2 separate regions of the Homo sapiens genome follow, and region 1 is linked to region 2. A link means that fine-mapping ties the variant in region 2 to the expression of a gene that starts in the linked region. Tissue or cell type: whole blood. Region 2 holds a variant in brackets; the other region holds the start of a gene. All regions are shown on one strand. Distances are from middle to middle.

What was found. PIP is the estimated chance that this variant, and not a neighbour inherited with it, causes the effect.
Region 1: it holds the start of TMSB15B-AS1, and the variant in region 2 is fine-mapped to the expression of TMSB15B-AS1 in whole blood (TOPMed, PIP 0.96).

The regions. Positions count from the first base shown.
Region 1 is chrX:103,915,054-103,923,163 of GRCh38, reverse strand. TMSB15B-AS1 (TMSB15B antisense RNA 1) reads left to right here and starts at 3,616. Exons shown (of 5, transcript NR_146557.1): 1 at 3,616-3,739; 2 at 4,084-4,332; 3 at 4,704-4,755; 4 at 4,939-5,077. It also overlaps a transcript of TMSB15B not described here. RefSeq lists an enhancer at 3,601-3,690.
Region 2 is chrX:103,882,546-103,890,655 of GRCh38, reverse strand. The region is part of intron 4 of TMSB15B-AS1 (TMSB15B antisense RNA 1); the gene reads left to right. Among named protein-coding and RNA genes, the nearest start is that of TMSB15B-AS1, 33 kb to the left of the region's middle. The variant T/A (reference allele first, on the strand shown) is at 3,514.

The DNA of each region.
Region 1 (8,110 bases), 33 kb before region 2:
GTGAATAGGCAACCTACAGAATGGGAGAAAATTTTTGCAATCTACCCATCTGACAAAGGGCTAATATCCAGAATCTACAAAGAACCTAAACAAATGTACAAGAAAAAATCAAACAACCCCATCAAAAAGTGGGTGAAGGATATGGACACTTCTCAAAAGAAGACATTTATGCAGCCAACAGACACATGAAAAAATGCTCATCATCACTGGCCATCAGAAAAATGCAAATCAAAACCACAATGAGATAGCATCTCACACCAGTTAGAATGGTGATCATTAACAAGTCAGGAAACAACAGGTGCTGGAGAGGATGTGGAGAAACAGGAACACTTTTACACTGTTGGTGGGACTGTGAACTAGTTCAACCATTGTGGAAGACAGTGTGGCGATTCCTCAGGGATCTAGAACTAGAAATACCATTTGACCCAGCCATCCCATTACTGGGTATATACCCAAAGGATTATAAATCATGCTGCTATAAAGACACATGCACATGCATGTTTATTGCAGCACTATTCACGATAGCAAAGACTTGGAACCAACCCAAATGTCCGTCAATAATAGACTGGATTAAGAAAATGTGGCACATATACACCATGGAATAGTATGAAGCCATAAAAAAGGACGAGTTCATGTCCTTTGTAGGGACATGGATGAAGCTGGAAACCATCATTCTGAGCAAACTGTCGCAAGGACAGAAAACAAAACACTGCATGTTCTCACTCATAGGTGGGAATTGAACAATGAGAACACTTGGACACAGGATGGGGAACATCACACACTGGGGCCTGTCGTGGGGTGGGGGAGGGGGGAGGGTTAGCATTAGGAGATATACCTAATGTAAATGACGAGTTAATGGGTGCAGCACACCAACATGGTACATGTATACATATGTAACAAACCTGCACGTTGTGCATATGTACCCTAGAACTTAAAGTATAGCACTAATAAAAAATAAATAAATAAATAAATTAAATAAAAATGAGATAATAGGGCAGAGCTTGCAGTGAGCTGAGATCGCACCACTGCACCCCAGCCTGGGTGACAGTGGGAGACTCCGTCTCAAAAAAAAAAAAAAGAGAGAGAGAGAGAGATAATAGGAATAAAGGCAAGATAACAACTAAATTGTTCTAAAAGCTGCAATCGGTCTAATGAACTGGGTTATCTGCAGAATGCCTTTTAGACTGCTTGTTTGGAAGGCAGCAAAGAAGAGTTTTCATGGGCTTTGGAGTTTGACATCCCTGGCCTGCAATCCCAGTGCCTGCACTTAAAAGTTGTGAAGCCTTACACAAGTTACTTAACATCCCTGAAATTCAGTTTCCCTCTCTGCAAAATGGGATACAATGGCTGTCTCAACAGTGTTGCTGGGAAGCTTAAATGAGATAACAGATAGAAAGTTCCTGGTACAAAGGAGGAAGGCAGCCAAAGGCAGCTATTATTGTTTCAGCTGAAAGCTTTATCTCTAAACCTTCAAGCTTCTAAGGTTTATGTGTTAAAATTACAAAATGTGGTCTCATTAGAGCCATCAGTTGGAACAGACTCACACACATGAGGCCAGAGATAGGATGTCCTGTATCCAATTGGAGCCAGGTTGCAAATACTCCCCCCATCCCTGCACAAAATGTCTCTCGCTTTGTTCCAGTAGTCCAACTCTGGCACCTTTACACAATCCATTTCCTGTCATTATTTTTGTCCGAGCTCTGACACCTATTCTTGGTCTTATGTGATTCCATCCCTACCAAGTCCAGCTGCAAATACCTAATTTGGTGATAAAGCCAATTTAAACACTGAACAAGAGTCTTCTGGGAGGCAAGAGTCAGATGTCACGGGACAGGGGAGCAGAAGCAAAAGTCTGAAGGAAACCTAAGAGCTACTGCCACCATCACCCCTAAGTGTGCGAGGTGAGCAACCTGCCTTCTCCATACATCCACACTTTCCACCTTCCACCACCACTACCCCACTGTTCCATCCACAGGCCACAATCCTGAGATGGAAAGTGCTTCATCTCCAAATCTGTATTGTTTACTCCAAGGAACTCTACATCTTGGGGTTGTAAATAAGAGGGTGGAAATGAGTGAGTGAAGTGCCTTGGCAGGCTGAAGATGAAGCCAACGGCAGTGGAAGGGCTTCAGACTGTTCACTTGCTTCCAAGCATCAGGAGTCAAGAACAGGCCCCACAGGAGCCTCCTAGCCACACTATACATAAAGGAAGTAATACCTGCTCTCTAAGTCAGGGAAAAATGGAGCAGGTTTTCCAGCCACTGCCTTCATGGCCATTCACTTTGGACAGCCCTGCATGCTGTTTCCATGGAGTTGCTCCTTCTCTGGGGCCAGTGATGCCAAATCCAGCAAAGGAGAAGTCCCCTGAAGAGCTCACAGAAGGGCAACCTAGCAACCTGTCCTTGAGCCAGGAAATGAAAGAGCCATATCAGCAACAGAGAGCTGTGGTTTGGGGGTTAGGTTAAATGGGGTTTGATTTCTCACACTTCTTCATCAAGCATGGCTTGAAGAAGGAAGACATTATGACAGACCCATTTGAAAATCTGCAAAGCTGTGGACTCAGAAGAATGTACGGAGTCCAGATTCTTTGCATACAGTTCCAGGAAGGACCGCGGGTAGGAACCTGTGCTCTGGAGTTACATTTCATAACAGATATGCCATGGACAAATACACTGATGACAGGCCCATTTACTTATAACCTTCAGCATCACGTGGTGGTGTTTAGAACAGTGGTTCACGAATCTCTCTACACCTCAGAATCAACTATGGGGCTGTTTAAAACTACAAATCACACTCTTTACCTGTAGTCCTAGTACATCAAAATCCCCCAGGGGTAAGGCCCAGGAATCTGCATTTATAACAAGCTCTCCAAAATGATTCTGAGGCAGCCCACTTTTTACTCACTTTAGTTAATAGTATGAGTTCTGGATTCAGAGATTCGGTCCAAATTTTGGCTTCACCTTGTAATTTCAGACAAATCATTTTACCTCTCTGAGCCTTGCCTCCCTTGGCGTCACAAAGGGCTGTCGAAATTATGTTGCTTTTATAAAAAGGGCAGCTTTTTGTAGTATAAAAAAAAGTATTTTTAAAAAAACGAAGGAAAGAAGAGTGCCAAGAAGAGTTTCCTCTTCTGTACAATGGGCACCATAAAGGTTGCCTTCATCTTCCCTCAGCCCTCTCCCTACTACCTCCTCACCCCCTCCCTCAGCACTATCATCACATTGAGACTGCTGTTGAGATGGTTTGAGACTACCTGTGCAAAAGTGCTCTTCAGACAATGCTGCAGGGCAAACAATTAGCATCTAGAGAGCAACATACAGGTGCTAAGTTGGATGCTGTAACTTCTTTGCTGCGGGATACAGTGCAAGACGCTTAACCTCTCTGTCTTTGGCTCAGTTTCTTCATCTGTGAAATGGAGATAACAGTTCTTGCTCACTAATTCTATGCAGTCCCAAGTTGGTCCTCCCATCCTGGCTTTGGTTTTTCTCCGCTATCCCTTAATCTAACAGAATAGAGGAGTGTTGGCAAGGGGTAGCCTTTGAAGTCAGATATGTTGACTTGGGAGTGAGCTCTTAGCTCTGCACTTCCTAACTGTACCGCCTGGGTGTTTCAGTCCTTTCCTGTTAAGTGGGCACACTGCTACCTCCTTCACAGGGCTGCTGAGAAGAAAGGAGACAGGCGCATCCGCACACAGAAAGCACTCAGTAAATGCTGTTTCCCCCCTTCCCCCTATACAAAGGTAAGGAACTCTCATTGTTCACTTGGTTTCTGTCCCACCTCGTGTTTCAGGCATCCGGTCTCAAAGCCCGGAGCAGAGCCGAGGCGGAAGGGGATGGGGAGAAGGGAAGCGACGGGGTAGCAGCAAACTCACAGATGAAAGGGAAATGGGCCTGGTCCGTGCGTCCGAGCTCCACTTGACGCCGCGCCGGCTCCCGTGCCTGTCGGCCTCAGCCCCCGCCAGCCAGCTCCCGAGTCTTGCTAGCAGTAGCTTCAGGGCCAGAGGCTGCTTGGGTAGGCCGCCTCCTCGCCCCGCTGATTGGCCGCGTCGCGCGGCTTGTCACGCTCTTTTGTCTCAATGGGCAGAGACTGAAAGCAACCGCGGCTGCCCGGAGGTCCGAACTGGAGGGTGGCCGCAGCCGTGACTTCCTTGGGAACCGCGCTGCCTCGACTCGGCTACCTCTCTGCGAAGCACTCGCTAAGCCGGGCAGCCCCGGGGTCGCTTAGCGGCCCAGGAGGCGCCAGCGATCCTGTTCCCCTGCAGAGCTATGGGGACCGGAAGGCGAAACAGAGCTGTCGACGCGGGAGCATACGCTGCCCACCAGTGGAGCGCAGGTAAAGAAAGAGCGCGCGATTTCCCGGCGCGGAGAGGGGTGGGGGAAGCCCCACCAGGACTGGGCGGCGCCCGGCTTGGAGAATCAGTAACTGCGAGGCAGGGGATGGAGCACTCCCATGGCCTGGTTGCGCTGAGAAAGGAGTTGTGGCTCATCTGGATGCTGCCGACTGGGTAGGATTTATGATTTGCCTGGATTGAAGTGGGCGGGGGTGTTGTCGGGCGTCGGGGGCGGGTGTTCGGGGAGGTGGCAAGGGGCGGGAGAAGACGATCGCAAGCTGTCTTGAACCCCTTTTGCATCTCCTCATCTCTTCCTGGGAAGGAATATGGGGGTGGGAGGTCATCCAACTTCTAGTCCCTTTCTCTCCGGCAGGTCATCAAAGCCGAATCCGAATTTGAATTCTGTGCGGCTGATTGCAGAGCTGGTAGGCCGACGGTTTCCCGCAGGAAATGTACGGGGGGCGGGAGTGCAGGAGGCACTTTGGCTTGTGTTCAGAAGATGGGAGAGGGAATTTTCCGCCTGGCGACAGAGGAGGCGGTGGAGGGGAGGTATCAGGTTTTCAGAAGAGGCTGCTCCCAACCCTTCCTTTCCTTCCTTCGCGGCACAGTCTTGAGGCCCTGAGGACTGGGATCTGCGACCCCCAGTGGACAAAAGTCGACTCTACCCCAGAGGCTAATTTTCTCAAGGCAGGCACCTGTTGAGAGGCTGCAAGTAAAATACAGGGGAACGCTAGTTTCCGAGCTCATGTAAGAATCTGAGAAATAACGGGGGTAAACTTTGACAAAGGGGTGTGTGATTGAGACCTGAGGTCATGAGATTAATGGGTTCTTATTACCTCTTGCGGGGGGAGGTAGTAAAGGGGAGGGGCAGGTGGCCTGTGGCGTCCTGAAGATTTTTCATGCATTCTTTTTCCGAGAACTAAACATTGTCAACTCTAATATATCTATAGCGCAACTTGCTTCAAGGACAGTAATAATTTTCATTTAATAATTTTCCATTTAATCCCTTTACTACATGGTCATTTCTGTCTCTTATATTCCTAGGTTTCCCTTTATAAGGATTAGTCAGATCAACATTATATCTCTAACAATGTTCCTTAGCTTTTTCACTCTCATTATACCTAGAGAATTTAATGGAATAAACCAGATTTTATATATATATATATATATATATATATATATATATATAAATGTGTGTGTGTGTGCGTGTGTGTGTGTATAAAATTACTCAACATTCAAGTAGTCTTGAAAAAAGATGGGTAGGAGTCACCTTCTTTCCCTTCATCAGTTACCAGTGTTCTCTTAACATAATGGAAGAGGCAGGAGGTATTCCCACCTACAACTCAGGATTCCTATGTCCTATGGGTTCAGTTGTGTCCCCCCCCCCAAAAAAAAACACCAAATACATCTATTGGACTCCTGACCCCTCGTCTCTCTCCTACTTGAAGATGGGTTTTTTAGTGGGATACTGAAGTTAAATTACATTCATTAGGGTGGGCTCTAACTCGAAATGGCTAGCGTGCATTGTGCCTATCAAAAGGGGAAATTCAGACAAAGAGACATGTGTACAGGGAAGAAAATGTGAAGTAGCATACAGAGAAGTGGGCCATCTACAAGCTGAGGAAAAATCCCTGGAAGAGATCCTTCCCTCTTATTACTCAGAAGGAAACAACCCAGCTGACGCTTTGATTTGGACTTCCAACCTCCAGAACTGTGAACAATTAATGTCTGCTGTTTAGGCCACCCAGGTCTGTGGTACATTGTCAGGCTAACAGAGCAAACCAATAGGGATTCTGTTGCCAGACAGATCTGATAGCTAACACCTGAAAGAGTGGAAGCAGCTTTGGAACTAGATAATGGATAGAGACTGGAAGCATTTTGACATGCATGGCACAAGAAGCCTAGAGGGCCTTTAGGAGATGGCTGGGGGAAATATGGACACCAAATGCAATTCAAGTGAGGGTTAAGAAAAGAATTATTTGCTGCAGACAAAGGATCTCTGACTTAGAGAATACATATATCATGATCACCGATATGTTGCTAGAGCTATGAGTGTTAAAGGTGCTTGTGGTGAGTTATGAGACCGAAACTAGGAAGATGTTACTGGAAGCTTGAGGAAAGGCAATCCTAGTTTTACAGTGGCAAAGGTTTGGTCTGTATTGTTTTCTTAGTGTTTTTGAGGAAAGTAAAAATTGTAAGTGATGAACTTGCACATGCAGCTGACTTCTATTGTTGGGGCTCAGAGCATGATACCCCAAAATAAAGGCCCCAGAAGTAGTCTCGGATGTAAAAGATGTTCTCTGAGGTCCTGGGTCCTCCTGTCTGTCAGCCCCATTCTTCCCAGGGAGCTAACTGTACAGACCAGAATCCCTCTTCCCCAAGGTGGGTCCTAGAAACCAGAAGCCTTTTTTTCTAAAGATAGTCACAAAGCCTAAAAATACTTTTCTAATTTTTCCTCCACCTTTTTTGTGTAAAACTGGTCATAAAGAAATGATCTGACCTTGTTTGACTGCAGGTCACAAGACCCCATTACAGAGAGGGTCCTGCCCCATACCCAGGAGGAAGAAATCTGTGTTCACAGAAGCCAAGCACAGTCTAGACAAACAAGCCCTGCTGGATTAGCATTAGGTCTTAGCCTTTTTGTCCCATCATATTTCTACAGGGCTGTCCATACTTTGTTGAACCTGAGCATATAAATAGACAATTTACCCTGTACCTTTCTGCCTTTGCTCCGAAGGCTGCAGTGTATATATGTTAAATAAATTTGTATGCTTTTTTTTTTTTTGAGACGGAGTCTCGCTCTGTCACCCAGGCTGGAGTGGTGCAATCTCTGCTCACTGCAACCTCCCCCTCCCAGGTTCACACCATTCTCCTGCCTCAGCCTCCCAAGTAGCTGGGACTACAGGCGCCCGCCACCACGCCGGGCTAATTTTTTGTATTTTTAGTGGAGACGGGGTTTCACCGTGTTAGCCAGGATGGTCTCGATCTCCTAACCTCGTGATCCGCCTGCCTCAGCCTCCCATAGTGCTGGGATTACAGGTGTGAGCCACTGCGCCCGGCCTTGTATGCTTTTTCTCTTGTTAATCTGCCTTTTGTGAGTTGATTTCTTAGCAAACCTTCACACAATTTGGTATAGCAAGAAGGGTCACCAAAGCCACTCCACTCTTCTGGAACCTGAAGTTAAGGGAATGCAGTCATCTGACAAGGTGGCAAAAGGGCAAGAATTTCTTACCAGTCAGGCCCCCAGCTTCTCTCTCTGTACAACCCAGTTGGGCAGATGGTACAAAACAAATCCCTCTGTTTGTCTCCTCTACAAGGTTTCATGCCTAGGAGAAAAAGATTGTTGTGTGACTGGTCTAGGTGTAGCAACTCTGGTACACCTTACACTACTTTGTGGTATGAATATTCACATTTTTTATCCCTTTCATGCCAGAAACAGTGTATTCCTTTGACTTTGTCTTTCTGTGTTGTTCATAGAGAGGGTTACAGGATAAAGTTCCCTCTTGTCTTGATCTGTGTTCTTGAGAGCTTGATTTGTGAGCAAGAGGAAGCACTCTCTCTTGCTTGCCACCATCCAGGGGAAGTGATTTTTGGGTCAAAGCAGGTGTCTGGTCTAACAAATCTCTTCGCTGGGAAGCGGAGAGATTTTATTTTGTTCTGAATGTGCCTAGCTCTCGGCAGGATTTGTCATAAGAAGTCTCATCCATAAGGGGCTTTTGTCATCTCAAACTTTATTGTCTCGAGCAAGGATCACCAACCCATAATCCAGGTATTGATACA
Region 2 (8,110 bases):
GATTTGCTTCAATGCCCAATATTTCATCAGTTTTCTTAAATATTCCACTCACTGTTTAAAAATAAAATTAAATAACCCTTTTATAATAATGTAGGAACCTGTAAATGACATTTTGAAAAAAAAAAGTTATCTGTAAAGCAATTTGTAAGAGAGCAACTAGGTTCCATTTTATAGTTGGCAAACCACAGAGACACAGCCTTTGATGTAAAATAAAGATGTGTTCCAAAGAAGAAAGGAAGAATTCAAGTTTTATAGCAAAATTTCCTTCCCAGGTTCCCTTTCAGGTAGGTTTGTGCAAAATGAAGGATTCTGACTCATTTAGTTTTGATGGATGATAGAACTGAGCCCTGATTAGTCGAGACAGTTGAGCCTTGGTTGGTTGAGGCCCGTGAGCTCTGATTGGTTGGTTCAAGTGAGCTCTGGAAGTTTCACAGTTTGTTCTGTTATTAGTCTCTTACCTTTGTGTGTGTGAGTTCTGATTGGTTGGTTCGAGTAAGCTCTGGAAGTCTCACAGTTTAGTCTGTTATTAGTTTATTACCTTTGTGTTTGTCCGTGTGTGTGTGTGTGTGATGAGAGCACATAAAATCTATTCTCTTAGCAAATTTTTAACATACAATACAATATTATTAACTACAGCTCTACTCTTGTAGAAATCTCTAAATTTATTTATCCTGCAAAACTACAAATTTGCATTCTTTAATTTACATCTCCCCATTTCCTGCCACCCCCCCTCCACACCTGCTAACCACCCTTCTACTCTATTTCTGTGTGTTTGACTTTTTTTCTTAGATCTTACGTATAAGTGAGATACAGCATTTTTCTTTCTGTTATTGGCTTATTTCACTTAATAAACCTGGAGGTTTATCCTCCAGGTTCATCCATATTGTCATAATGGCATTATACCCTTCTTTTCTAAGGTCAAATAATATCTTAATGTGTGTGTATATGTCTATGTCTATATACAGATATAGATGTCACAACTTTTTATCAATTCATACATCTATGAGCACTGAGTTTGCCATTGTGAATAAAGCCACAATGAACGTGGCAGTACAGATATGTCCTGAAAAGATCTACAAAGCCAAGCAGATAATTTGAATAAGTAGAGTGGACCAAGCCTGTTTTGCTCCCTTCTAGGACGGCAGCATGTTGCAGTACAAGTGAAACATTTGTAAATATTTGAATAATGTTTTTATTGGCTCTGTTTGTATGATGAATGATTCTCCTGCACTGCTCCCCCACCTCCAACCGCAAAATATTACCAGCATCCATTGGAATGCACGTATTATCCTAATCACTGGGTTTTGACCAGTCTAGGTACTCCACTAAAGATATTTTCTTTCCTTGACTCCAGAAGAGAAACTAATAGCCCATGTGATTTTTGGGAAAAGGGGTTTGAACAGAACTTTGGAGATGAAGAGTGGGCTATGGGTTAAAAGTGTAATATGATGCAATACCCAAAATGTGGTGTACATGCCTCTTCAGGTACATGAGATAGTTTTAAGTGGTACACAGACTTGTAAGGAATTTTTTATTTGTATAAATATAAGAGGTACAGGTGCAGTTTTGTTACATGGATATATTGCACAGTGGTGAAGTCCAGGCCTTCAGTGTAACCATCACCCAAATAGTGTACATTGTACCCATTAAGCAATTTCTGATCCTTCACCCTCCTCCCACCTTTCCAAGTCTCCAATGTTTATTATTCCACGCTCTATGTCCACGGAGGTACACAGATTTTTAAAAACAGTTTATGCCGTTTAATTAAAAATATGTCAATAACATGTTATCTGTGAAACCATAGATATTATTGCTTACAAAATACAAAAAAGTTATTTAAAATCAGTTAATTAAAATAGCTTTCTTAAATAAATAATTGTATGGGTGATATGCACATATGGCAAAAAAGGATCAAACTGTTAGTGGAATGACTAGTTAACATGTTGTCAAAATGCCTAGGAATCAGACAAACCTGGTTCAAACCTCACCCACCACTTACTAGCCATGTGACTTTAGGCAAGTAACCTAATTTCTCTGAGTCTCAGGGTAAAATAAGAATAATAACAGTACCTGCTTCACTGGGTTGTTGTTAAGCTTAAGTGAGGTGCATTATAGTGTAGTGATGGGGTGCACAAAATCTAAAGCTAGATGCCCTGGTTTCAAATCCAAGCTCTACCACTTACCAGCTAAGTGATGTTGAGCAACTTACTTAACCTTTATGTGCCTTAATTTTCCCACCTGTAAGTGGGATTATTATGAGGGTTGTATGAGTTAATACCTTTGGAGTGCTTAGAAACATTCTAGTATATATTAAGTGTTCCTTGGAAACAATCCTAGTGTAAGCATTATGTGTTTGTTAGATTAAAAATAAACGTGTAGTCTGAACACGGTGGCTGACCCCTATAATCCCAGCACTTTGGGAGGTCAAGGTGAGAGGATCGCTTGAGCCCAGGAGTTCAAGATCATCCTGGGCAACATAGCAAGGCACTGTCTCTACAAAAAAATTGAAAAAGTAGCCAGATGTGGTAGTGCACACTTGTAGTCACAGCTACTCAGGAAACTAGACAGGAGGATTGCTGGAGCCCAGGAGTTTGAGGCTGCAGTAAGCCATGATTGTGCCACTGCATTCCAGCCTGGCAGACAGAATGAGACCCTGTCTCAAGAAAAGAATAAAAATAAAAAATAAATGTCTACACATCTCACAAAATTTAGCAAGTTCTCATGAAATGTAACCCATTGATGTTGCTTTGGATTTCCAACACCAAAATGAAATAAATATGCAATCAGCATTTGATTAAGAGGCAGCATTTAATTGCTCAGCATACACAGAGAACTAGCAAACTCCAGCACCTCTCTGCAGTAGGAATTAAAAACAAGTCTCATGGAAGCTGGGTCTTCTTCAAGGACTATCAGGAGTGAGGTTAGAAAGAAGCCCCAAGTTATCTTTCTGTATCCTGCTAAGGTTAAGTGTGGGCCATTTCAATTTACAGATGAGGAAATTAGGTCTCAGAGAAATTAAGCAAGCTGCCCAATGTTATGAAGCATATAAATGATAAAGCTAGATGGTATGCTACCTTTATGGAAGACCCTACATCCCAAGCAGAGGAATTTAGAGTTTATCCAGTGAAGTGGGGAGATAAAATGTGTATTTTATGGAAATTAGTATGGTAGAGGTATAGTGATGATGAGAGTAATATAACAACAATATCATTAGTTGAGATTCTACCACTATTATTGGATACCTCTGAAACATTCTTAGATATCCAGTCTTAAAAAACTCTCCTGTGATACCACACCTCACTTTTGCTACTCACTGACCAGTATCCATTTTCTGTTTTTAATTCAAACTTCTTTGAAAGAGTACTCTGTTTATATGTCCATTTCTCATCACCCACTCACTCCTCAAATGATTGAAGTTTGGCTTTTATTCCCCAACCCATCCCTATCCCCCAACACATACTCCAACAAATCTAGCCTCATCAACCTTCAAATACACACATACCTTGAACATAT[T/A]GTGGGTTCAGTTCCAGACGACTGCAATGAAGTAAATTATCACAATAAAGTCAGTAACACAAATTTTTTGGTTTCCTAGTATATATAAAAGTTATATTTACACTATACTGTAGTCTCTTAAGTATACAATAGCATTATTCTAAAAAACATATGTAACTTAATTTAAAAATACTTTGCTGCTAAAAAATGCTAATGATCATCTGAGCCTTTAATGAGTTGTAATCTTACTGGTGGAGGAGGGTCTTCCTTTGATGTTGATGGTTGCTGACTGATAAGGATGGCAGTTGCTGATGGTTGGGGTGGCTGTGGCAATTTCTTAAAATAAAACAGCAATGAAGTTGGCCACATCAATTGACTCTTCCTTTCATGAAAGATTTCTCTGTGGCATGTGATGCTGTTTAATAGCATTTACCTACAGTAGAACTTCTTTCAAAATTGGAGTCAGTGCTTTCAAACCCTGACACTGTTTTATCAACTAAATTTATGTAATATTCTAAATCCTTTGTTGTCATTTCAACACTATTCACAGCACCTTCACCAAGAGTAGATGCCATCTCAAGAAGCTACTTTGCTCATCCATAAGAAACCACTCCCCCATGCTCATGGATAGGAAGAACCAATATTGTGAAAATAGCCTTACTGCCCAAAGTAATTTATAGATTCAATGCTATCCCCATCAAGCTACCAGTGACTTTCTTCACAGAATTGGAAAAAACTACTTTAAAGTTCATATGGAACCAAAAAGGAGCCCGCATAGCCAAGACACTCCTAAGCAAAAAGAACAAAGCTGGAGGCATCACGCTACCTGACTTCAAACTATACTGCAAGGTTACAGTAACCAAAACAGCATGGTACTGGTACCAAAACAGATATATAAACCAAAGGAACCAAACAGAGCCCTCAGAAATAATGCCACATATCTACAACTATCTGATCTTTCACAAATGTGACAAAAACAAGAAATGGGGAAAAGATTCCCTATTTAATAAATGGTGCTCGGAAAACTGGCTAGCCATATGTAGAAAGCTGAAACTGGATCCCTTCATTACACTGTATACAAAATTTAACTCAAGACGGATTAAAGATTTAAATGTAAGACCTAACACCATAAAAACCCTAGAAGAAAACCTAGGCAATACCATTCAGGACATAGGCATGGGCAAAGACTTCATGACTAAAACACCAAAGGCAATGGCAACAAAAGCCAAAATTGACAAATGGGATCTAATTAAACTAAAGAGCTTCTGCACAGCAAAATAAACTATCATCGGAGTGAACAGGCAACCTACAGAATGGGAGAAAATTTTTGCAATCTACCCACCTGACAAAGGGCTAATATCCAGAATCTACAAAGACCTTAAACAAATTTACAAGAAAAAACAACCCCATCAAAAAGTGGGCAAAGGATATGAACAGACACTTCTCAAAAGAAGACATTTATGCAGCCAACAGACATATGAAAAAATGCTCATCATCACTGGTCATCAGAGAAATGCAAATCAAAAACAATGAGTTACCATCTCATGCCAGTTAGAATGGAGATCATTAAAAAGTCAGGAAGCAACAGATGCTGGAGAGGATGTGGAGAAATAGGAATGCTTTTACACTGTTGGTGGGAGTGAAAATTAGTTCAACCATTGTGGAAGACAGTGTGGCAAGGATCTAGAACTAGAAATACCATTTAACCCAGCAATCCCATTACTGGGCATATACCCAAAGGATTGTAAATCATTCTATGATAAAGACACATGCACACATATGTTTATTGTGGCACTATTCACAATAGCAAAGACTTGGAACCAACCCAAATGTCCATCAGTGATAGATTGGATTAAGAAAATGTGGCACATATACACCATTGAATACTATGCAGCCATAAAAATGGATGAGTTCATGTCCTTTGCAGGTTAATGGACGAAGTTGGAAACTCTCATTCTCAGCAAACTATCACAAGGACAGAAAACCAAACACCGCATGTTCTCACTCATAGGTGGGAGTTGCACAATGATAACACATGGACACAGGGAAGGGATCATCACACACTGGGGCCAGTCAGGTGATGGGGAGCTGGGGGAGGGATAGCATTAGGAGAAATACCTAATGTAAATGATGAGTTGATGGGTGCAGCAAACCAACATGGCACATGTATGCCTATGTAACAAACCTGCATGTTGTGCAGATGTACCCTAGAACTTAATGTATAATAATAATTTTTAAAAAAGAAACAACTCCTCATCCATTCAAGATTTATCAAGAGATTGCAGCAATTCTGCCACATCTTCAGGCTACACTTCTAATTCTAGTTCTCTTGCTATTTCCACCACATCTGCAGTGACTTTCTCCACTGAAGTCTTGAACCCCTCAAAGTTATCCATGAGAGTTCGAATCAACTTCTTCCAAACTCCTGTAAATGTTGATATTTTGACCTCCTCCCATAAACCATGAAAGTTCTTAATGGCATCTAGAATGGTGAATCCTTTCCAGAGGTTTTCAATTTTCTTTGCTCAGATCCATGAGAGGAATCAATATCTACAGCAGCTATAGCCTTATGAAATGTATTTCTTAAATAGTAAGACTTGAAAGTCAAAGTTACACCGTGATCTATGGGCTACAGAATGAATGCTGTGTTAGCAGGCATGAAAACAACATTAACCTCCTTGTATATCTTCATCAGGGCTCTTGGGTGACTAGGTACATTGTCAATGAGCCATAATATTTTGAAAGGAATCTTTTTTTCTGAGCAGTAGGTCTCAGTAGTGGGCTTAAAATATTCAGTAAATTATGCTGTAAACAAATGTGTTATCATCCAGGCTTTGTTGTTTCATTTCTAGAGCACAGGCAGCATAGATTTGGCATAATTCTTAAGGGCCCAAGGATTTTCGGAATGGTCAATAAGAATTGGCTTCGAATTAAAATCACCAGCTGCATTAGCCTCTAACAAGAAAGTCAGCCTGTCCTTTAAGTCATTGAAGCCAGGCATTGACTTCTCTCTATCTGTGAAAGTCCTAGATGGCGTCTTATTCCAATATAAGGCTGTTTTGTCTGCATTGAAAATTTGTTGTTTTGTGTAGCCACTTTCATCGATTATCTTAGCTAGATTTTCTAGATAACTTTTTGCAACTTTTACATCAGCACTTGCCACTTCACCTTGCACTTTTATGTTATGAAGATAGCTTCTTTCCTTGAACCTCATGAACCAGCCTCTGCTGGCTTCCAACTTTTCTTCTGCAGCTTCCTTATCTCTCTCAACCTCTGCAGAATTGAAGAGAATTAGGGCCCTGCTCTGGGTTAGGCTTTGGCTTAAGGGAATGTTGTAGCTTGTTTGAATTTCTATGGAGACAACTCAAACTTTTTCCATATGGGCAGTAAGTCTGTTTTGCTTTCTTATCATTCACGTGTTCACTGGAGTAACACTTTCAATTTCCTCCACAAACTTTTCCCTTGTGTTCACAACTTGGCTGACTGTCTGGTACAAGAGGCCTAGCTTTTAGCCTATGTTAGCTTTCAACTTTCCTTCCTCACTAAGCTTAATCATTTCTAGCTTTTGATTTAAAGTGAGAGACATGTGACTATTCCTTTCACTTGAACTCTTAGAGGCCACCGTAGGGTTATTAATTAGCCTAATTTCAATATTGTTGTGTCTCAGGGAATAGGGAGGCCTGAGTTAGCCTGCCATCTTATATGGGCACAGTTCATGGTACCCCAAAAGAATTACAACGGTAACATCAAAGATCACTGATCACTGCAACAGATATAATAATAGTGAAAAAGTTAGAAATACTGCAAGAATTATCAAAAGGTGACACAGAGACACAAAATGAGAACATGCTGTTGGAAAAATGTCGCTGATAGACTTGTCTGATGCAGAATTGCTCCAAGTCTTTAATTCATAAAAAACACAGTATCTGCCAAGTGCAATAGAGTGAAGTGCAATAAAATGAGATAGGCCTGTATTTATCACTATGTACAAGGTAGGCACCATTCTAAATTATACATCTACGTCCTCACTTAGTCCTCACAATACCCATGAGATAGGTAACATTATTTCCATTTTACAGATGAGGAAATAGACCCAGAAAAATTAAGTAACTTGCTCAAAATCACAGAGCTTTAAGGCAGAACTTTTGGCCAAAATGTATGTCTTACTGTCAATTTATGGCCACTGTGCTAACATATTGTCAGATTGCCTGGTGTCTTACATTCATAAGACTTGTTTCTGAAAGAATCTCGCAAACCAAAGATTGGTAAATTTGATTTCTATTATGGGAAAGTGGATGGAATCTGAAATAAAAACCAATATTAATTTGCTTTTATTTGTATACGGAAACTCTGGAAAGATAAACAATAAACTATTAGGCTGTGCTGTCCAATATGGTAGACACTAGTCATGTGTGGCTCTTGAGCACTTGACATGTGCCTAGTGCAACTGAGAAAGTGACTTTTTAATTTCAAAAAATTAAATTAAAATAGCCACCTGTGGCTGCTAGCTACTGTATTGGACAGTGCCAATATAGAACATTTCATTATCAGAAATTTCTATTGGACAGTGCTGCTATAGAGAGCAGGGGGAAATGGTGTATAGGAGCAAGGGTGATAG